Regions from separate parts of the Homo sapiens genome. Here all the other regions are linked to region 3. Evidence: fine-mapped expression QTL. A gene starts in region 3. Each other region holds a variant in brackets. All regions are shown on one strand. Distances are from middle to middle.

Region 1 (7,960 bases), 70 kb before region 3:
AGTATTATTATGGTTATTTCTTTTTTTTTTTTTTTTTTTGAGAGTCTTGCTCTGTCGCCCAGGCTGGACTGCAGTGGCGCTATCTCGGCTCGCTGCAAGCTCCGCTTCCTAGTTCATGCCATTCTCCTGCCTCAGCCTCCTGAGTAGCTGGAATTACAGTCACCTGCCACGGCGCCCGGCTAATTTTTTGTATTTTTAGTAGAGACGGGGTTTCACCATGTTAGCCAAGATGGTCTCGATCTCCTGACCTCGTGATTCTCCCGCCTCAGCCTCCCAAAGTGCTAGGATTACAGGCGTGAGCCACCGCGCCCGGCTGGTTATTTCTTGATTGTATGCTAAACATGCTTCCGCTTTTTTTTTTTTTTTTTCCAGACGGAGTCTCGCTCTGTCGCCCAGGCTGGAGTGCAGTGGCGTGATCACGGCTCACTGCAAGCTCCACTTCCTGGGTTCACGCCATTATCCTGCCTCAGCCTCTCGAATAGCTGGGACTGCAGGCCCCCGCCACCATGCCCAGCTAATTTTTTTTTTTTTTTGTATTTTTAGTAGAGACGGGGTTTCACCACGTTAGCCAGGATGGTCTCGATCTCCTGACCTCATGAGCCGCCCTCCTCAGCCTCCCAAAGTGCTGGGATTACAGGCGTGAGCCACCGCACCCAGCAGCCTCCTCTTTTTAGACCATATAGGGTAACTTCCTGACATTGCCATGGCATTTGTAAGCTGCCATGGCATGGCACTGGTGGGAGTGTAGCAGAGAGAACAACCAGAGGTCACTCTTGTCCTCTTGTCGCCATCTTGCTTTTGGTGGGTTTTAGCCAGCTTCTTTACTATGGCCTGTTTTATCAGCAAAGTCTTTATGATCTGTATCTCGTGCTGACCTCCTATCTCATCCTGTAACTAAGAATGCCTTAACTGACTGGGCACAGTGGCTCACACCACTTTGGGAGGCCGAGGTGGGTGGATCACTTGAGGTCAGGAGTTCAAGACCAGCCTGGCCAACATGGTGAAACCCTGTCTCTACTAAAAATACAAAAATAAGCCAGGCAGTAGTGGCACACGCCTGTAATTCCAGCTACTCGGGAGGGTGAGGCAGGAGAATTGCTTGAGCATTAGAGGCAGAGGTTGTGGCGAGCCGAGATCGTGCCACCGCACTCCAGTCTGGGCGACAGAGTGAGACAGTCTCAAAAAACAAAACAAGGGCCAGGCGCAGTGGCTCATGCCTGTAATCCCAGCTCTTTGGGAGGCTGAGGCGGGCAGAGGTCAGGAGATCAAGACCATCCTGGCTAACACGGTGAAACTCCATCTGTACTAAAAATACAAAAAATTGGCCGGGCACGGTGGCTCATGCCTGTAATCCCAGCACTTTGGGAGGCCCAGGAGGGCAGATCACGAGGTCAGGAGATCGAGACCATCCTGGCTAACATGGTGAAACCCCATCTCTACTAAAAATACAAAAAATTAGCCGGGCATGGTGGCGGGCGCCTGTAGTCCCAGCTACTCGGGAGGCCGAGGCAGGAGAATGGCGTGAACCCAAGAGGCGGAGCTTGCAGTGAGCCGAGATTGTGCCACTGCACTCTAGCCTGGGCGACAGAGCGAGACTTTGTCTCAAAAAAAAAAAAAAAAAAAAAAAAAAATTTAGCCAGGTGGGAGACTGGGACAGGAGAATCGCTACAACCTGGGAGGCGGAAGTTGCAGCGAGCTGAGACTGCACCACTGGACTCCAGCCTAGGCAACAGAGCGAGACTTCATCTCAAAAAAACCCCCCCCAAAAAAACCCAAAAAAACACAAAACAAAACAAAAAAAGAATGCCTTAATGGGAATGCAGCCCAGTAGGTCTCAGCCTTATTTCACCCAACTCCTATGCAAGATGGAGTTGCTCTGGTTCAAACACCTCTGACATTTCTCCCATCCCTTTTATTAGAGAACCCTTAATCCTAGGGGTTACAAAGAAATAAAGATCCATCTTCTGTAACTTTTTCAGGGTGAATAGGGGCGATGATATTCCTGCCTGACTCTTAGGGTCTCTTGTATTCAGGGTTCAGAGAGGAGCTCAGTCAGAAAGCATCAGTATGGTGAGAGCTATTCATAACTCCAACAAAAGGTGATATCTGGAAGATTAAAAGGTGTTCAGTTTAAGAAAACATTCAGTAAGCTTATCCTGCATTCCTACACAAAGAGTACAACAGCAATATACTCCTCAACAGTAAAGCAAAATAAGCAAAACTATCCCAAGTAAATTAAATAAGAAGGTTTTCCATGAACTGGGCAACTGTTGGAACCAAGCTGATTTGGGGTTACTAGCTGATTCCAGTATGTGCCCAGAATTAGAATATTGATCCAGATTTTTACATTACCCATTCCTTTTGTTTCTTGTGAGCAGCAGCCAGAGATCACTGGTTGGTTCACAGGAATAAGCAGAGTTAATCTAAGTTGCAGAAAAAAACTTAAAAACAACTGATGAGACTAGAATTTTTATTTTTTTTATTTTTTGAGACAGAGTCTTATTCAGTCACCTAGGCTGGAGTGCAGTGGCACAATCTTGGTTCACTGCAAGCTCTGCCTCCTGGGTTCAAGCAATTCTCCTGCATCAGCCTCCGGAGTAGCTGGGATTACAGGCATATGCCACCACGTCCGGCTAATTTTTGTATTTTTAGTAGAAACGGGCTTTCACCATGTTGGCCAGGCTGGTCTCGAACACCTGACCTCAGGTGATCCACCCGCCTCAGCCTCCCAAAGTGCTGGGATTACAGGTGTGAGCCACTGTGCCTTGCCAGTCTCCCATTTTTACTAAAGGCAAATCATGGTAAAATAGATTGGCTTTATTAAACTTGGTCTGATTTTTTTTTTTTTTTTTGAGATGGAGTCTCACTCTGTCGCCCAGGCTGGAGTGCAGTGGCGCAATCTCGGCTCACTGCAAGCTCCACCTCCTGGGTTCATGCCATTCTCCTGCCTCAGCCTCCCGAGTAGCTGGGACTACAGGTGCCTGCCACCACACCCGGCTAATTTTTTGTATTTTTAGTAGAGACGGGGTTTCACTGTGTTAGCCAGGATGGTCTCAATCTCCTGACCTCGTGATCCGCCCTCCTGGGCCTCCCAAAGTGCTGGGATTACACTTGGTCTGATTATTTGTATAAAGTGCAGCAAGAATAATGATTTTTCACATAGGCTTTTTAAATTGGCTTTGAAAGAACTTTGTTCCGTAAAAGGAATCTCACATAAGACTTACAAAGCCAATTAAAGCCCGTTGGGAAAACTGGCCTCATACCTTGTCTAAAGTCCCTGTACAGGGTTCCTGATCTGTGGTAAGTAAAGAGTGTCACTTTCTGACTTTCTGACAGGCCCAGGAGCCCCACATTATCCTGGGACCTCAGGAGGGGAGGAATTTATCCAACTCATAGGTTTTTTTTTTTTTTTTTTTGAGATGGAGTCTCACTCTCTCACCAGGCTGGAGTGCAGTGGCGCAATCTCGGCTCACTGCAGCCTCTACCTCCCGGATTCAAGTGATTCTTCTGCCTCAGCCTCCTGAGTAGCTGGGACTACAGGCATGCAACACCACGCCCAGCTAATTTTTGTATTTTTAGTAGACACAGGGTTTCACCATGTTGGCCAGAATGGTCTTGTTCTCTTGACCTTGTGATCCGCCG[C/T]GCCCGGCCACTCATAGGTATTTGAGGGTATAAACCCATGGCTGGGCTCAGCTTTAAAAAAAAAAGAGAGGCCAGGCGCAGTGGCTCACGCCTGTAATCCCAGCACTTTGGGAAACCGAGGCAGGTGGATCACAAGGTCAGGAGTTCAAGACCAGCCTGACCAACATGGTGAAACCCTGTCTCTACTAAAAATACAAAAATTAGCCGGGCATGGTGGCACGTGCCACCTAATCCTAGCTATTCAGAAGGCTGAGACAGGAGAATCGCTTGAACCCAGGAGGCTGAGGGTGCAGTGAGCCAAGATCACACCATTGCACTCCAGCCTGGGCAACAGAGCAAGACTCAGTCTCAAAAAATAATAATTTTCTTTAGAATAATAAAAATAAAGGCCGGGCACGGTGGCTCACGCCTGTAATCCCAGCACTTTGGGAGGCTGAGGCAGGTGGATCCCCTGAAGTCAGGAGTTCAAGCCTCGCCTGACCAACATGGTGAAATCCTGTCTCTACTAAAAATACAAAATTATCCAGTTGTGGTGGCACGAGCCTGTAGTCCGAGCTACTCAGGAGGCTGAGACAGGAGAATTGCTTGAACCTGAGAGGTGGAGGCTGCAGTGAGCCGAGATCACACCACTGCACTCCAGCCTGGGTGAGACAGAGTGAGACTTCAACTCGAAAAAAAAAAAAAAAGAGTAAGAATAAAAATTCATTTTACACTGGGCGCGGTGGCTCACGCCTGTAATCCCAGCACTTTGGGAGGCCAAGGCGGGCGGATCACGAGTTCAGGAGATCGAGCCCATCCTGGCTAACACGGTGAAACCGTGCTTCTACTAAAAATCCAAAAAATTAGCCGGGCATGGTGGCGGGTGCCTGTAGTCCCAGCCACTCAGGAGGCTGAGGCAGGAGAATGGCATGAATCCGGGAGACGGAGCTTGCAGTGAGCCGAGATCGCGCCACTGCACTCTAGCCTGGGCCACAGAGCAAGACTCCGTCTCAAAAAAAAAATAGAAAAAAAAATTCATTTTACTTTTTCTTTTTTTGTTTTTGTTTGTTTGTTTGTTTGAGACAGTCTCGCTCTGTTACCCAGGCTGGAGGGCAGTGGCACAATCTTGGCTCACTGCAACCTCTGCCTCCCAGGTTCAAGTGATTCTCCTGCCTCAGCCTCCTGAGTAGCTGGGAGTACAGGCGTGCACCACCACACCTGGCTAATTTTTGTATTTTTAGTACAGGCGGGGTAGTAAAATTTTGTATTTTAGTAGGGGCGGGATTTCACCATGTTGGCCAGGCTGGTCTCCAACTCCTGCCCTCAAGTGACCCGCCTGCCTCTGCCTCCCAAAGTGCTGGGATTACAGTCGTGAGCCACTGTGCCTGGCTACATTTTACTTTTTCTTAAGATGGATGCTTCAGGTTAACTCAAAAGAGTAACTGAGGATAGGAGGAGAAAATAGCCTTGAAGAACGCATTTCTATATCTTTCTTATATTAGGAGGTAAATATAGCACCCTATTTACATTCTAATCCCAAAGTTTAATTATATCTCTATATAGTAAGAAATAGGGCTTTAAAATCATGGCTTGTTGAAAGAATGGGATGACAGATTTGGGTTGGTTGTCATTTAGTAGTATTGATATGTGACAGAAAGATGATTAAAGAAGAGTGATAGGCCAGGTGCAGTGGCTCACGCCTGTAATCCCAGCACTTTGGGAGGCTGAGGCTGGCGGGTTACTTGAGGTCAGGGGTTCAAGACCAGCCTGGCCTAACCTGGTGAAACACTGCCTCTACTAAAAATGCATAAATTAGCCAGGCGTGGTAGTAGGTGCCTGTAATCCCAGCTACTCAGGAGGCGAGGCAAGAGAATCGCTTGAATCCAGGAGGCAGAGGTTGCAGTGAGCCATGATTATGCCACTGCACTCCAGCCTGGGAAACAGAGTGAGACCCTGTCTCAGTAAATAAATATATAAATACGATAAATGTAGATATGAAAGCAGACTACAGTATAAAACACTGCTCAGAAACATTTTGCGACCGGGCGCAGTGGCTCAGGCCTGTATCCCAGCACTTTGGGAGGCCGAGGCAGCGAATCACCTGAGGTCAGGAGTTCGAGGGGCTGACCAACATGGTGAAACCCTGTCTGTACTAAGAATACAAAATTAGCTGGGCATGGTGACACATGCCTGTAATACCAGCTACTCGGGAGGCTGAGGCAGGAGAATCGCTTGAACCTAGGAGGCGGAGATTGCAGTGAGCTGAGATTGCACCATTGCACTCTAGCCTGCGTAACGAGCAAAACTCTGTCACACACACACACAAAATAATAACAATAATAATAATAAAACATTGCCGGGCACAGTGGCTCATGCCTGTAATCCCAGCACTTTGGGAGGCTGAGGCTGGTGGATCGCGAGGTCAGGAGTTCAAGACCAGCCTGGCCAAGGTGGTGAAACCCCATCTCTACTAAAAATACAAAAATTAGCCAAGCGTGGTGGCACACGCCTGTATTCCTAGCTACTTGGGAGGCTGAGGTAGGAGAATCGCTTGAACTTTGGAGGCAGAGGTTGCGGTGAGCCAAGATCATGCCATTGCACTCCAGCCTGGGCAACAAGAGCCAAACTCCATCTCAAAAAAAAAAAAAAAAAAAAAAAAAAAAACAATAATTAGCTGGGTATGGTGGTGGGCAGGCCAAGCTGGGCAAATCACCTGAGGTCAGGAGTTCAAGACCAGCCTGACAAACATGGAGAAACCCTGTCTCTACTAAAAATACAATATTAGCTGGGCATGGTGGCACATGCCTGTAATCCCAGGTACTCGGGAGGCTGAGGCAGGAGAATCGCTTCAACCCAGGAGGCAGAGGTTGCAGTGAACTGAGATCATTCCACTGCACTCCAGCCTGGGCAACAAGAGCAAAACTCCATCTCTAAATAAATAAATAAATAAATAAATAAATAAATAAATAAAATAAAAAGGGTTTAGGCCAGGTACAGTGGCTCACGCCTGTAATCCCATCACTTTGGGAGGCCAAGACAAGCAGATCACTTGAGGTCAGGAGTTCAAGACCAGCCTGGCCAAGATGGTGAAACCCCATCTCTACTAAAAATACAAGTATTAGCTGGGCATGGTGGCGTGGCACCTCTAATCCCAGCTACTCGGGAGACTGAAACACAAGAATCACTTGAACCCAGGAGGTGGAGGTTGGAGGTTGCAGTGAGCCGAGATTGCGCCACTGCACTCCAGCCTGGGTAATAGAGGAAGACTATGTCTCACAAAAAAAAAATAAAAAAGAAAGGTTTTTTTTTTGAGACGGAGTCTCGCTCTGTCCCCCAGGCTGGAGTGCAGTGGCTCAATCTCGGCTCACTGCAACCTCTGCCTCCCGGGTTCACGCCATTCTCTTGCCTCAGCCTCCCGAGTAGCTGGGACTACACGGGCCCACCACCACGCCCAGCTAATTTTTTTGTATTTTTAGTAGTGACGGGGTTTCACCATGTTAGCCAGGATGGTCTCGGTCTCCTGACTTCGTCATCCGCCCGTCTCGGCCTCCCAAAGTGCTGGGATTACAGGCATGAGCCACCACACCCGGCCAACATAAAACATTTTTATAAAAAATATATCTTCAGGCCTGGTGTGGTGGCTCATGCCTATAATCCCAGCACTTTGGGAGGCTGAGGCCAGCGGATCACTTGAGTTCAGGAGTTTGAGACCAGCCTGGACAACATGGTGAAACCCCGTCTCTACTAAACATAGAAAAATTAGCCAGGCATGGTGGTGCACACCTGTAATGCCAGCTACTTGGGAGGCTGAGGCACAAGAATCACTTAAACACTGGAGGCGGAGGTTGCAGTGAACCGAGATTGTGTCACTGCCCTCCAACCTGGGCAACAGAGCAGCGAAACCCTGTCTCAACCCCAAAAAAGAAACAAAGAAACAAACCGTATATATATATCTTCAGAGTTAAAAAATGGTGAGAACAAGAGCATTGTTTTATATATTTTTTCAACTCTCTTTAACTTCTGGCTTAATAGAAGACAGCTGCATTCTCATTATTATTTATTTTTTTTTTTTTAGATGGTGTCTCGCTCTGTCACCCATGCTGGAGTGCAGTGGCGTGACCTTGGCTCACTGCAACCACCACCTCCCAGGTTCAAGCAATTCTTCCGCCTCAGCCTCCCGAGTAGCTGAGACTGCAGACGTGCACCACCATGCCCAGCTAATTCTTTTGTATTTTTTGAAAAGACAGAGTTTCACTATGTTGGCCAGGCTGCTCTCGAACTCCTGACCTTAGGTGATCTGCCCGCCTCAGTCTCCCAAAGTGCTGGGTTTACAGGCGTG
Region 2 (7,960 bases), 23 kb before region 3:
CCGCCTTGGCCTCCCAAAATGCTGAGATTACAGGCGTGAGCCACCCCGCGCACAGCCTAGACTCTAATTTTATAAAACTTTGTTGAATTTTCTAAGTGTCATTTAGGACATATTGTGCTTTTCTGTGGAGCTTATATCTTATCCTCTTATGTGCAACAAAAAGGGGGTCGGAGGTAAATGCTGATGATGTTGTTTAGTTTTATTTCCTTTTGATCTGGCATGAGTAAATTGCTCTGTTTCCTTAAGCTTGGGTCTGTTACAGAGCTTTGTGCCTTATAGGGTGCTCAGTGTGTGTTGACAAAGGGAATAAGAACTGTCAGTGCCATAAAGAACCAAAGATTCTGGCTACTTTGTCTTCTTCCTTTCTCTCCCACTATGCCTACACTTCCTCTGCCCAGACACTTTTGGAAAGTGTTTAACTGCTGGGTTTTCTTTTTCTTTTTCTTTTTTTTTTTGAGACGGAGTTTCACTCTTGTTGCCCAGGCTGGAGTGCAATGGCGTGATCTTGGCTCACCGCAACCTCTACCTCCTGGGTTCAAGTGATTCTCCTGCCTCAGCCTCCCGAGTAGCTGGGACTACAGGCATGCGCCACAATGCCTGGCTAATTTTGTATTTTTAGTAGAGATGGGGTTTCTCCATGTTAGTCGGGCTGGTCTTGAACTCCTGACCTCAGGTGATCCACCTGTCTCGACCTCCCAAAGTGCTGGGATTATAGGCGTGAGCCACTGCGCCTGACCACCTACCTGCTGGGTTTTCTTTGTATGTCAGCATGGAGTTTTTCCCAAAGAAAGGGAATATGGATGGAGAGAGAGAGGTTATGAACAGGTTATGTTACAGAGGTTATTGCCTTTGAAACTGGGCCCTCATCATTCTAGACTTGCTTGCTTTGTTATAAATTAGAAGAAACCAGAGGGAGATGTGCCAAGTAAACATTCGAATGACTGTTTAGAATATGGTTTTCTTAATTAGCAGTCATGGGGAAAACATGCATTTTTAATTTGGAAAAAACCTGACAGTTAACATGGTTCTGTTTACCTTGATTAGTGAAGTAATTTGCTGCAGTGTTACAGAGGAGCAGAATCACTTGGGTCTCAAAATAGACTGAAAATTTAACTCCCCAAACCAAATTTAACAAACAGAATTGGTTATTAGAGATTTATAGGCAAAAATATCAGTTTGGAAATTAACCTTGGCTACTGGCCACCTTAGCTAGGTTTTCTCCACAGATCTGTTTTCTCCACAGATCTGAGTACTTAACACTTCCCAGATGATTGGAGAATATTCTGGGCTGTTGGGGATGACAGGAAAATGTGAGGGGGAGTAGCCTAGGTAAGGGTGATGATGAAATTGTTCTATCTGCTGTCAAATAATCTTTTCCTGTTTGCAATGTTTTTATTTTTTCTGAGTCCCTTTGGGAACCAGGTGCTAACAAGAAGCTGTTATGTGTGGGATTTCGGAGCCTTACTTTAACGATAGAGGAACCAAGTATCATTTTAGATATCTTTTATTTATGTTCTCGGTGCATATGTTGACTTTAATCCCTCTTCCCCCACACCTCGCCCATTAAGGGGAAGGAGGTTAACTCTGCAGATGATATTCAGGCCCAACCAGCTCACTCTCTGGGGTGGCTACTGACTAAAGGCAGAGAATGTCCATCCAACATGCCCTTCTGACTATACAGTCACCACTTTTTTGGGGGAATTCTTTAGCAGATCTTATTGTTCTTTCTGCAGAAGCTATCATTCCTACCTCCCCAACCCCCAAAATCTCTAATACAGGCCAAGTCATTTTTTATGATGGGTCTCTGAGATAGGGCAGTTTGTTAGAGGAGAGGCTAGGGTAGAGAGGGAGAGAATGGAGGTATCTGAAAATAAGTAAGAAAAAGGCATTGATTTTTATTTACTCGGAACGGTCCTCTTGGCATCCCAGATAAGGGAAATAGGATTTGATCTCCAATTGTATTGCCATGGAGAGAATGGCAGGTGAGGATGCTTTGAAGTAGTTAGAAATTAAATATTGAATACATTAATGGCAATACCATTTCATGACTTTGCATATCTTTCTGGATTAGTCATGGAAGTTGGGGAAATATTGCTTAGATCTTCTGGGTTAGAGGATTCCAACTGTTTATTGGCAAGGTTGGATTATTAAGAATCAAATAGCAGACAAAAATGGCTGGGCACGGTGGCTCACGCCTGTAATCCCAGCACTTTGAGAGGCTGAGGTGGGTAGATCACTTGAGGTGAGGAGTTCGAGACCAGCCTGGCCGACATGGCAAAACCCTGTCTCTACCAAAATACAAAAATTAGTTGGGCATGATGGCATACGCCTGTAGTCCCAGCTACTCTGGAGGCTGAAACAGGAGAATTGCTTGAACCCAAAAGGTGGAGTTTACAGTGAGCTGAGATTGTGCCACTGCACTCCAGCCTGGGCAATAGAGCGAGACTCTGTCTCAAAAAAAAAAAAAAAAGAAGGAAAGAAAGAAAAAACAGACAAATGGATCAGAATTGGTGCTTGAGCAAGAGAAACTTCGAGCTTAGGATGGTTGTCTACTTTAAAATAAAGCTGCTGGCCGGGCACAGTGGCTCACGCCTGTAACCTCAGCACTTTGGGAGGCCAAGGCAGGTGGATCACGAGGTCAGGAGATTGAGACCATCCTGGCTAACACAGTGAAACCCTGGCCCTACTAAAAATACAAAAAATTAGCCGGGCGTGGTGGTGGGTGCCTGTAGTCCCAGCTACTCGGGAGGCTGAGGCAGGAGAATGACGTGAACCCAGGAGGCAGAGCTTGCAGTGAGCTGAGATCGCCCCACTGCAACAGATCGCCTGGGCAACAGAATGAGACTCGGTCTCAAAAAATAAAATAAAATAAAATAAAATAAAATAAGTAAAGCTGCTGGCCAGACATGGTGGCTCACGCCTGTAATCCCAGCACTTTGGGAGGCCGAGATGGGAGGATCACTTGAGGCCAGGCCAGCGTGGTGAAACTCAGTCTCTACTAAAAATACAAAAATTAGCCGGGGGTGGTGGCGCATCATCATACTGGTGAGAAAAAAAAAAAAAAAAAAGAGGCCGGGCGCGGTGGCTCACAAAAAAAAAAAAAAGAAAGAAAAAGGAAAAAAAGAAATATCAGTTTGAGAAATGATTTTTTTTTCTTTTTTCTTTTCTTTTTTTTTTTTTAAACAGAGTCTCTCTCTGTCACCCAGGCTGGAGCGCAGTGGCATGATCTTGGCTCATTGCAACCTCTGTCTCCCGGGTTCAAGCGATTCTTCTGCCTCAGCCTCTGAAGTAGCTGGGATTACAGGCACGCGCTAATTTTTGTATTTTTAGTACAGACGGGATTTCACCATATTGGCCAGGCTGGTCTCGAACTCCTGACCTCGTGATCCACCCTCCTTGGCCTCCCAAAGTGCTGGGATTACAGGTGTGAGCCACCACGCCCAGCCTCTTTTTTTTTTTTTTTTTCTCACCAGTATGATGATGACCATTTTAAGAAAGCTTGTGTGGCTCTCTCCTATCATTACAGACCTCCAGAGCTGGAAAATTTGATGCATTTACTGAACTCTTCCTGAAAGTTTAATATGGAGTGGGAATCAGTTTTTGTCCTAATTTATTAGAGAAGGCTTCCTCTTCTCTACTCCTTGTGCAAACCCATCTCTGGATAGCTAGAAAAGGAACTTCAGAATGGACTATATGTGATGACCACCTGTATGCACTCTAGGCTCTTATCTGTCTCTATTTTATGTGGTGACTATATCTCAGAAGTACTACCCCTTCTGAGTAGTACTATTATTTCCTATGCCAATTTTTTTTAAGTCTCTGATGCTGCCCTTTTTAAATTTTTGTCTTATTTTTTAGCCTCTTTAGTATTAGGGGGTGAGGTGACATTCCTAGACTCTACAGTAGCAGTTTGGCATGTTAGTGACAGGAAATTGTGATTCCCTATCTCCCCCTCCTCCTACCTTTTCTGCTTTTGTGATTCCATTGTTCCTATCTCATTGAGGCTTTCCCAGGCATTCGAA[TTTAG/T]TTAGTAGGTCATTTCTAATCTCTGGGCCTTGTCTTTTCTCTCTCCGTTCCCCTCCTTCCCTACCACATATTTTTTGTTTATTCTGAGGTGGTTTGTTTCTGAAAGTTAATCTAGGTCACCTTCTATATCCTGTGCTTTCTAGTTGGCTTTAGACATCTTGTTCTAGCAACAATGATGGTAGCAGCTCTCTCCCTGACCTTGCCCCATGTGCTGTCCTTCTGTCAAGGCCATTTGTGTGTGTACTGCGGCAGGTGTGTGTGTGGGGGGATGCGCCCAGACTGTTCTCACAATGTCCTCAGTTTTTCAGGTTGTCTGACAGCTTTATGTACAGCGTATTTTTAGAAAAACTTAAATATACTTCTTTATTTAGGGTTTTATTCTGATGAGCAAGTTTGTGTGTATATGTGTGTATGAGCATTTGTATGTATATATACTTATACAGATCTATATTATATATACAGTTTTTGTACTATCATTTAAAATAAAAATGTTTCTCAATAAAATGTCAAAGCCGACCATTTCAGGGTGTCATTGAATTTGTTTTCATCTCCTGGGCAAAATTTGTATCTATTCTCTTTTTTTTTTTTTTTTTTGAGACGGAGTCTCGCTCTGTCGCCCAGGCTGGAGTGCAGTGGCGGGATCTCGGCTCACTGCAAGCTCCGCCTCCCGGGTTCACGCCATTCTCCTGCGTCAGCCTCCCAAGTAGCTGGGACTACAGGCGCCCGCCACTACGTCCGGCTAATTTTTTTGTATTTTTAGTAGAGACGGGGTTTCACCGTTTTAGCCGGGATGGTCTCGATCTCCTGACCTCGTGATCCGCCCGCCTCGGCCTCCCAAAGTGCTGGGATTACAGGCGTGAGCCACCGAGCCCGGCCAAATTTGTATCTATTCTCTAATGACAGGTGAACCACAGAGCTCATTTTCCCTGTCCAACTGAGCTAACTGAAGGGGGAGGGGTATAGATCTACTAACCCATGCATGGCCATTGCCTTTTCCTTATCCACCGCTCTCAGCCTGGTATTCTTGACAGGCAGAGCAAGTTGAGGTAAGAAATGAAATGAGAATGAGGAGAGCTTTTGACCAGCTTGTTAAATGTACATTTTCCTTCTTTCTCTCATTCCCCACTCCCTTCCCTAAAAGCAAACAACCAAGGGAGGAGAAAAGTAGCTGAAGAAAATGATTATGTGCCTTGTGTGGGAGTAAAGTCAATACTGAGACGTATGGGGAAAAACATCAGACTCAGGAGTGCTTGGAAAGAGTAGATTTACTTTGCCAGCTTCTCAGCTATTCTTGGTTAATAGGGTGCTTGCTGCTATCTTAGTCCAAAATCAGCACACATTTATATTTAAAAATAGGAGGATCAGTCTGATAGTAGCACAATCCCCATTGATAGCCGGGGTGAACAGACCAATTTGACTAGCAAGATGGGTATCCTATCTAGTGTATAGAGTTCTGAAAAGCTGTTTTGTTGGCAAGAAGGATACCTTTCTTTACAAAATTAGCTTTGAGCCTGTCCAAAGCTAAGGACATATAAGCATCTGTGTTCAGCGACTGGAATCTCAAGTAAGTTCTCAAAGTCAATATTTAGGAAATTGGACACCTACCATGTACTAGGGTACATGTAGATAATTTCTTTTTGGTAAATACATATAGTCAGCAAATGCTGTGCACATATTCAAGTAATAGAAAGTAATTCTGGCAGGTACTTTATTAATATATATAGTCTTGGCTGTGCTGACAGAAAAAAAAGCAGGAACTTGTGGAGCCTTAAGAACCAAAGAACTAAAAATCTTGTTGAATTAAATCCTGGTGAGAGAAATCATCAAGATGGGAAAGTTGGAGGGAACTAGAGAGATAGGAACCTAGAGTTCTCTGATGGGTGATACTCTTTTTTTTTTTTTTTTTTTTTTGAGACAGAGTCTCACACTGTTGCCCAGGCTGGAGTGCGGTGGCATGATCTTGGCTCACTGCAGCCTCTGCCTCCCAGGTTCAAGTGATTCTCCTGCCTCAGCTTCCCTATTAGCTGGGATTACAGGCATGCACCACTACACTCAGCTAATTTTTGTATTTTTAGTAGAGACGGGGTTTCACCATGTTGGCCAGGCTGGTCTTGAACTCCTGACCTCAGGTGATCCACCCGCACTGGCCTCCCAAAGTGCTGGGCTTACAGGTGTGAGCCACCGTGCCCGGCTGGGTGATAGTCTTAAGTAATGGGAAAAATTATGAACTAGGGCAACTTTCCTAAGACTTCCTTCCTCTGTAAAAAAGAACCCTCTACTCCAAGGAGATCAATAGGTAAAAAATACAGGTGAAGGCTGAAGTGGGAGCAACCCAGTGATAACTACACCTGTGTAAGGCTTGTGCAAGACATTTGATAGGTAATTGAGTAAGTTAAGACTATGGGAGACTTCTGAACAAAAGTGTGGGGTTGCAGTCTGCTCCTATAACCAGTCCTAAAGTTTAAGGGTAGTGCTGTAAAGGAAAGGAAAGTTTGGGAAAGGGCCCAAAATTATAAATAACAATAGCCACCATGTTTTAAGCTTTTGCTACATGTCTGGCAATGTGCTAGGTACTCTGCATATACATATAAATACCCATCTTGTAAGGTGAGTATTATCCTCATCATATAGTTGTAAAAATAGGTTGACTTTGCAGAGTCACACACTTGTAAAAATTGTCCTTTTTTTTTTTTCTTTTTAAAGACAGGGTCTCACTCTTGCCCAGGCTGGAGTGCAGTGGCATGATCTTGGCTCACTGCAGCCTCGACCTTCGACCTCCAGGTCTCAAGCAATCCTCCACCTCAGCCTACTGAGAAGCTGGGACTACAGGTGCACACCACCATGCCTGGCTAATTTTTGTATTTTTGGTAGAGACAGGGTTTCACCATGTTGCCCAGGCTGGTCTTGAACTCCTGAGCTCAAGGGATCCACCTGCCTTACCTTCCCAAACTGTTGGAATTATAGGCGTGAGCCATGGCACCCTGGCTAAAATTGTTCTTTCTAAAACTACAGTTTCTACATTGAGTTAATTAGTGTACTTTCCTCTGTGATTTCCCTTTTGTCAGAATGCTATTTTATTCACTAGCCTTGGGCAGCTTAATTCATCTCAGATTTGCATTTAAGAAACTGAGGGCCGGGTGCCGTGGCCCGTAATCCCAGCACTTTGGGAGGCCAAGGCCGGCGGATCACGAGGTCAGGAAATTGAGACCATCCTGGCTAACATGGTGAAAACCTGTCTCTACTAAAAACACAAAGATTAACTGGGTGTGGTGGCAGGCGCCTGTAGTCCCAGCTACTCAGGAGGCTGAGGCAGGAGGCGGAGCTTGCAGTGAGCCGCAGTTGCACCACTGCACTCCAGCCTGGGTGACAGAGTGAGACACTATCTCGGAAAAAAAAAAAAAAAAAAAAAAGCCAAACTCGGGCAGATCACCTGAGGTTGGGAGTTCGAGACCAGCCTGGCCAACATGGTGAAACCCCATCTCTACTGAAAATACAAAAATTAGCCGGGCATGGTGGCACATCCCTGTAATCCCAGCTACTCGGGAGGCTGAGGCAGGAGGCTTGAACCCAGGAGGCAGAGATTGCAGTGAGCTGAGAGAGCCGAGATTGCACCACTGCACTCCAGCCTGGGCGACAGAGCAAGACTCTGTCTCAAAAAAAAAAAAAAGAAACTGAGAAGAAAAATATGATCCAAGCAGCATTTCCTATAAGCTCCCCAAAGTAAATTTTGCTCCAAAACTAATTTGGGGGTATCTGCATAGAGTTTCTGGCCAGCAATACTTGAGCAAGAAGAGTAAAAAATAATCTCTCTTGTGGGGAATGAATAGGGTCTTCATCTCTAGGTATGCTGGATGTTTTCTTTCTTTCCTTCCAGATTACGCTCCTCTATTCTGTAGCCTGTTCTCTGTCCTGGGAGACTGACCTATATGAACAT
Region 3 (7,432 bases):
CTTTATGCCCAGAGATGCAGGGGAAGGGGATGGCCCCTTTCTAGAAACTGCTAGAACTACAGGGCTAGCCTTGGCAAAGGGGGTCACTGGGAGAGTTTGTGGGGCATGGCGACCACTCCCATGTTAAGGCCCTCAGAATCCAACAGCCTTCTTAGCAAAAGCGCCTTAGCTAGGGACAATAGAGGCTAATTTGCATCTCATTTACATGCTCTTCATTTCCAGGCAAAATGATCTGATAGCAAGCACCCTCAACCCTTTCCTTCCTCCCTGAGAGAGCAGGCTGTGCCTCCCTTCCACTCAGTCTACACACACACACACTCACACCCCACTTTAGGCTGGATTAGTCCAGCCTCTACAAACACTTGGCTGGCCTTTGCATTGGCCTTCTAGACTCAACTATGATACACCTTTAAGAGGGCTTCTTGTAGCTGTTTCTGGGAAGCAGCATCTGGTCAGCTCCTCAACTCCTGGCCTGGAGAAAAGATCACTCTGCCCTGGAAGAATCCGAGCTGCTTCACACACCCCATCTGAAGCACATGGGAGAGACCTGGCCGACTCTCCCCTTTCCAGATCCTCCCGTTGCTGGGAAGAGGAAACAGCCCTTCTCTCTCCTGGCCCCGAAGCCACCTCTGGGGAATGGCTGGGGTCACAGCCAGAGTCTAGGAGAGCTGTGGAAGGGATGGAGAAGGGGAGACTGGGCTGGGGACAATAGCAGGAAGCCTTTGGGCTGGTCGCCCGCCCCAGTCCACCTTCCTCAGAGGGAGCAGGGTCGCGCCAAGGAGCCTGTGGAACCGGAGCTTTCCTTTCTCCAAGCCATTTCCCCCACTCTTAGCTCTTAGCCCCACACTCAGCACCTACCCTCCTTCCCACCCAACCCCCAACCAGGACAATCCAGGTGTCTAAAGCCTCGAAAAGAGGTGGGCCTAGGGCCAGGGGCTCGACCTGTCTCCCCCTCACCGGATCCGGGGCTCCGAGGAGGGGCCGGTAGCAGAGTCTGGGCCGGGACCGGGTCCCAGAGCCACGTTAGCGAGAGGAGGGGCTGGAGGGGCCTGCAGGCGCAGACGAAGAGGGGATAGGAGCGGGGGTTGGGGAGCGGAGGCGGGTCTCCCAGGCCAGGGAAACAGGGCCAGAGGCTGAGAACCGACGAGGGCGGGCCTGAGGCCGGCGCTCAGTGGGGACCGTGGGCTCAGGAGGCAGTTGCCAGCTCGGATGTCCTCCTTGGGAGACCTCAGTCTAACAAAGCCCCGGGCCGAGCGGGCTGAAGGAAGGAGATAGGCGCTGGGACCGATGTTGCTCGAGGGCCCCATTCGCCGCCTCTTTGCACGAGCCAACCCTTCAGAGGGTGCTCAGATTCCGGCTTGCACAAGGACAGAGGAGCACCCGTGACACAAAGTCCGGAACGATGCGTCCCTCTTCCCATCCCTTCAGGGGCGTCAGGAGGGTCTAGTTCTCCGTGGGTCTCGGAGCCCTAGTTTCCTTGCTGGGAAAGCAAGGGGCCAGGTTTTCCACGCTCTCTACGGAGCGCGCCTCAAATAATCCCTTTTCGCGCTTCCCAGTCCAGCGGGATGCGACTCGACGAAAGCCCAATTGAACGAGGTGCCCAGACTCTGCTCTCACCAGTACAGTTACGGGGCTCGGCCACTGTCCCTCCTTCCTCCCTGCACCCCAATTTCGTTGACCCTCTCCGTCAGCCAGGCACACCGGGCGCCGACACCTCCCTGGTCCCCTAGCGCTTCAGAAGCTTGCCCCCCGCCGGCCGCGCCCTCCTGCTCCCTCCCCGCCTCCCCGCAGCCCCTTCCCTGCCCGGGGTACTTGCTCCAGGATTCGGGTCAGCGGGATCGAGATCGCCGCGGGCGGCCAGCGGCCACGCGCTGCGCTGAGTTCGCAATCCGTGGTTGTGCTCAGGCGAGATGCGATGAGCGTCCGAATTGGATGGTGCTTGAATTTGGGTTCCAGGGCGCTGTCGGGAGAGCCCTGGGTCCAAGTCCAGCCGCGGATCCGCGGAGGAAAACAATGCGACCGCCCGGGGCTCTGGGCTCGGCCCCAGTGGCCCCGCCCGCCTCCCAGCCGGGCCCACCTCCTGCCCGCCTTTGGGTCGCCGCGACTAATCCCGCCCTCGGAGGGCGGCTAGACACCGCCTTCTCGTCACCTCTCCGCCAATAGTGCTGCCCGGGGAGGGGCGCCAGGAGCACCGTCCACCCAGAGGGCCAGGCCGGGAGGCTGAACTGGAGACCAGAGACAGACGCGAGATGGAGAGACCCACGGACAGTCGCCGACACCGGGCAGAGGAAGAAATACATACAGAAGCAGAGACAGGCTGGCACAGGAGAGGCTCTGGGGAGAAATTTCCCAAGAGAGGAAGAGGAGCTGGGAGGAGAAACAGACAGGAAACCTGGGAGCCTCGCGGGGCTGGGCTGGGCTGTCAGAGCCTGCGCGATCCGTCCTCCCTTCCCCTCCTATACGGCTTGGGCGACCTTGCTCCCGAGGGCGCATCCCGCATCTCCCTGACTCTGCCCCCAACTCTCTGTTGCTCCTCTCTATGCGTTGTCCCTCTGTCTCCTTATTTCTCCCCGTAGGCCTCCTCTGGTTCGTCCTGACCCGGATAAGGAGGCCTAGCATGCGCGTGGGGGCTGGAGGCCTGGGAAAGGAAAGGAAGGTGTCAGCAGGAGGTTTCCCTTGTTTCCATGATCTCCTCCCCTCCCACCTCTACAAAGCAGCATGAGTTTGGGCCACTATGGCAAGAACTAGCTAGCAGTCAGGCTGTTGGGTAATGGAAGAGGGCAGGTGAGAGAGGCTGAAGCCAAAACAGATGTGGAAATCAAGACTAACTGACTCAGAGAAAGGCACAAAGAGTAGCAACGCTAAGACTTGATAAAGTAACCCACACAGCCTTCCTGCCCCACAGACATACGTCCCACCTTTCCTCAGAGGACCGTGACATCCCTCCAAACAGCAAAACTGCCCCTTCTCCCTCCCCACCCTTCATAAAGCCCCTGGGAATGTCAGTGAGGAGGAAGAATAAACTACTACAGACAGGATTGCTTGGTACCTTGGTATTGCCTGGTAGGATTCTTCTCTATGTGGGGCTGGGACAAAAGACATTCTCAAAATTCTCCAGGAAAGTGGGTGGCCTGGGAGACACTGGCATTCTCAGATAGTTTTATCTGACTGAACACTTCTACCCACATCTTGGACTCTGGACTAGAGGAAAGGAGGGGGAAGGGGTTTGCCACTTTAGGCCAGCCTTAACTGGACTGTGATCAGGGAGGGGAGTATCAACAACTAGGCTAAGCCCCACAGCGAGTACACAAGAGACCTAAACATACACACACATGTGCACACGCACATACAGAGAAAGAGAGAGACAGAGAGACAGATTTAAGGCCAGGTGAACCAGTAAGATGAACAGTAACTCAGTAAAGTCAGATCTAAAAAAAATAGAAGAAGATAAACAGGGACAATATCTACACAGAATTAACGGCCGAGGGATCTTGGGTCCAAGGCAATTCAACAAACTGTCAGACAGTTGGGGTTGTTTTAAAGGCTGGAAAGAAATTTTCAGAGAAAGACACCTCAAAATACAGAGGCACTGAGAGGTTAAAAGAAATCTCCTCAGCTCCTAGCACAGGGTTTAGGTACTCAGATACATGCTTATGGAATAGATTAGTGAGTGGGGATTAAGGTGTAATTCATTTAAAGTTTTAGGACCCAGCTCAAATCTCAGTTCAATCCAGTAAGTATTAAACACTTACTTGAGACACAATCTACTACACAATCCACTGTGGGTTGTGGTTCCAGACTTTAAGAAAATGATAATATATTTGAATTAAAATAAGATTTGCACATACTAAACTATTAAAAAGTCTAAACTATTAAAAAGACAGTACTAAATATTAAATATTTAATAGTACTAAACTATTAAAAAGACAACACCAAGTCTCAAAAGAAAAGCTACATTGAACATAAATTTCCAAATGTGCAAAGAAGACAATAAATATTCTCCGAAGACTGCACAGAAAGATGCTGGATACATTTTATCATGAAGGACAGGAAAACTTTGGTGGGAGTTGGCTTGGTGCAAAAGAAGAAAATGTTCCCGAGGGACACAGCTTCAGCAAAAGCTTTTACTTGGTTAGCAAGGAGCCTGCAGCATGGATAAAAAAAAGGTCCTGTGAGGCTGGTGTGTGGGAAAGGCACTAGTTAGGAGCAAGGGGAGGGAAAAGGGGAAGACAAATTACAGAAGGCCTGGAATGACTAGGTGAGCTGGTTAAAATCATCTGACAGGAGTAGGACGTCATTTTAAATTCTTGAAAAAGGGTGCAACTTGTATTTTTTTATTTTTTTAAGCAAGAAGACAGAGACCTACTAGCAAGTAAACAAGGTTTAAAGGTGAGGGGAGAGGGACAATCAGACAAGGGTGATGGGAACAGATTTAGAAAGAAATACATGAATCTGAGAGCTATTTTGAAGGACAAATCAAAATGACTCTCTTGGCTGGGCGAGGTGGCTCACCCCTGTAATCCCAGCACTTTGGGAGGCCGAAGTGGGCAGATCACCTGAGGTCAGGAGTTCTGAGACCAGCCTGGCCAACATGGAGAAACTCCAGCTCTGCTAAAAATACAAAAAAAAATTAGCCGGGTGTGGTGATGGGCACCTGCAATCCCAGCTACTCAGGAGGCTGAGGCAGGGGAATTGCTTGAACTCAGGTGACAGGAGATTGCAGTGAGCCAAGATCGTGCCACTGCACTCCAGCCTGGGTGACACAGAGGGAGACTCTTAAAAAAATAAAAATAAAAATAAAAAACCTCTCTTCCTACTCCCTTAGTGTTTTGAAGAAAATCACACAGTCCTGGCCGGGCGCAGTGACTCAGGCCTGTAATCCTAGCACTTTGGGAGGCTGAGGCGGGTGGATTGCCTGAGCTCAGGAGTTCGAGACCAGCCTGGGCAACAACAGTGAAACCCCGTCTCTACTAAAATAAAAAGAATTAGCCGGGCGTGGCGGTGTGCGCCTGTAGTCCCAACTACTGGGGAGGCTGAGGCAGGAGAATTGCTTGAACCCAGGAGGCGGAGCTTGCAGTGAGCCGAGATCGCACCACTGCACTCCAGCCTGGGCAACAGAGCGAGACTCCATCTCAAAAAAAGGAAATCACACAGTCCCACAGATTGGATTGGAAAAGCACTCTCTTCCAATCCCCAGGGAGATATTTCAAACTTCCTCCTTTTTTTGCAAGTTCCTTTCCTTACCATTTCCTTGTTCATCTCAGGAAAACCCTCATCCGTCTTCAGAGAAAACAGAGATAATAAAGTGAGAATTCCACCAACTTTTTGCTCCCTACAGATATACTTACCTGCATCATGTCTCTCTCATCCTAGTGAATGCCATCCGTATCACCTGTCGAAGGTTCACCTATGACTTTACTGTAAGTTGTATGCAGTCCCTGGTTGTCTATCTTGCTCAACACTGTATCCTTTCCTTGTAGCATAGTGCCTGCACACAGAAAGTATTAACTTAAAAAAAAAATAGAGGCAGAGTCTCATTGTGTTGCCCAGGCTGGTCTTGAACTCCTAGGCTCAAGTGATTCTCCTGCCTCGGCCTCTCGAACTGCTGGGATTACCGGCGTCAGCCACCATTCCCAGTCTTAACCTGTCCTTTTCTACTGATATTTTCCCCTTAGCATATACACATGCTCAAGTAATTCCCATGATTAAAAGGAAAACATTCCAAACTTTCTCTTGATCCTTGTCTGCACCCAGTCATCACTCGATTTCTCTTCCCTTCATAACTAAGCTTCTAGAGTTACCTATACTTGCTATATCCATTTTCATGATTCTCATTCTCAATCATTTTAGTTTTTGTCCCCATCAGTCCACTGAGATTGCTCTCATTAAGGCCACCAACGACCTCCTGGTCACATTCAATGAACAACTCTTCAGTCTTTATCCTTTTGCCCTCTCTGTGCCATTTGACCTGTTGACTCCCCCCTCCTTGAAATGCTTTCTTCTTTTGGCTCCTGAGGTCCCTCTTTCTCTTAACAAAGACTAGGGGCTTAATAAATATGTATTTTTAATGAATGGATAGTTTCACTTCTATTAATATGGCTTTTCTTTTCTTTTCTTTTCTTTTTTTTTTTTTTTTGAGACAGAGACTCACTCTGTCGCCCCAGGCTGGAGTGCAGTAGCATAATCTTGGCTCACTCACTGCAACCTCCACCTCCTGGGTTCAAGCGCTTCTCCATCTCAGCCTCCCGAGTAGCTGGGATTACAGGCGCCCACCACCACGCCCAGCTAATTTTTATATTTTTAGTAGAGACAGGGTTTCGCCATGTTGGCCAGGCTGGTCTCGAACTCCTGACCTCAAGCGATCTGCCCACCTCAGCCTCCAAAGTGTTGGGATTACAGGTGTGAGCCACCACACCCAGCCTAATATGACCTTTCTTAGCCTTCTCTGACCTCTCTAAATGCTGGTGTTCCCTATGGTCATGTCCTTAGCCACCTCTTTCTTCTCTACCCATTCTCATTGGTCAAGATAATCCGACAATGAGAACAGTTACAAAACCAACAGTTACAATAAACTGTTTTGTTTTGTTTTGTTTTGAGATGAGTCTCCCTCTGTCACCTAGGCTAGAGTGCAGTGGCTCACTCGGCTCACTGCAAGTTCCGCCTCCCGGGTTCACACCATTCTCCTGCCTCAGCCTCCAGAGTAGCTGGGACTACAGGCACCTGCCACCATGCCCAGCTAATTTTTTTTTTTTTTTTGTATTTTCAGTAGACACAGGGTTTCACCGTGTTAGCCAGGATGGTCTCGATCTTCTGACCTCATGATCCGCCCGCCTGGGCCTCCCAAAGTGCTGGGATTACAGGTGTGAGCCACTGCGCCCGGCCACAATAAACTGTTTATATGTTGCTTACCATAAAATCTAGGTGTTCAACTCAGGTCTTTCTCCTGAGTTCTAGACTCATGTATACAATTGCTTATTGGATACTTCCATTTGGATTTTTCATGTTTACCACTTAGTCTAAAGACAGGAAGTAGCCAGGCGCAGTGGCTCACACCTATAATCCCAGCACTTTGGGAGGCTAAGGTGGGCAGATCACCTAAGGTTGGGAGTTCAAGACCAGCCTGACCGACATAGAGAAACCCCGTCTCTACTAAAAATACAAAATTAGCCGGGCATGGTGGCGGGCGCCTGTAGTCCCAGCTACTCAGGAGGCTGAGGCAGGAGAATCACTTGAACCCGGGAGGTGGAGGTTGCCATGAGGCAAGATCGCGCCATTGCACTCTGGCCTGAGCAACAAGAGCGAAACTCCATCTTAAAAAAAAAAAAAAAAAGACAGGAAGCTTGTCTTTTATCTTTTTATCCCCAGCACTTAATTGTAATGCCTGGCATACAGTAAGTAGAGGAAGAAATAAATGCATCAAAGATTAAAAACA

Alleles and levels. Alleles are on the strand shown, and positions count from the first base shown. SD is a standard deviation of normalised expression in the study named. Not every link is listed here.
For the expression in prefrontal cortex of the gene that starts at base 2,015 in region 3, allele T in region 1 goes with a higher level than allele C (large effect, 1.4 SD a copy in GTEx).

Evidence for each region.
Region 1: its variant is fine-mapped to the expression of SEMA6C in prefrontal cortex (GTEx, PIP 0.94).
Region 2: its variant is fine-mapped to the expression of SEMA6C in whole blood (TOPMed, PIP 0.98).

What each region holds. Positions count from the first base shown.
Region 1 is chr1:151,073,960-151,081,919 of GRCh38, forward strand. All of the region lies in intron 1 of GABPB2 (GA binding protein transcription factor subunit beta 2), which reads left to right. Among named protein-coding and RNA genes, the nearest start is that of GABPB2, 7.2 kb to the left of the region's middle. The variant C/T (reference allele first, on the strand shown) is at 3,643.
Region 2 is chr1:151,121,001-151,128,960 of GRCh38, forward strand. GABPB2 (GA binding protein transcription factor subunit beta 2) reads left to right here. Exons shown (of 9, transcript NM_144618.3): 9 at 1-4,542. Among named protein-coding and RNA genes, the nearest start is that of SEMA6C, 22 kb to the right of the region's middle. The variant TTTAG/T (reference allele first, on the strand shown) is at 4,023.
Region 3 is chr1:151,144,617-151,152,048 of GRCh38, forward strand. It overlaps SEMA6C (semaphorin 6C), which reads right to left and starts at 2,015. Exons shown (of 19, transcript NM_030913.6): 1 at 1,817-2,015. It also overlaps a transcript of LYSMD1 not described here. RefSeq lists silencers at 1,763-2,222, 2,433-2,492.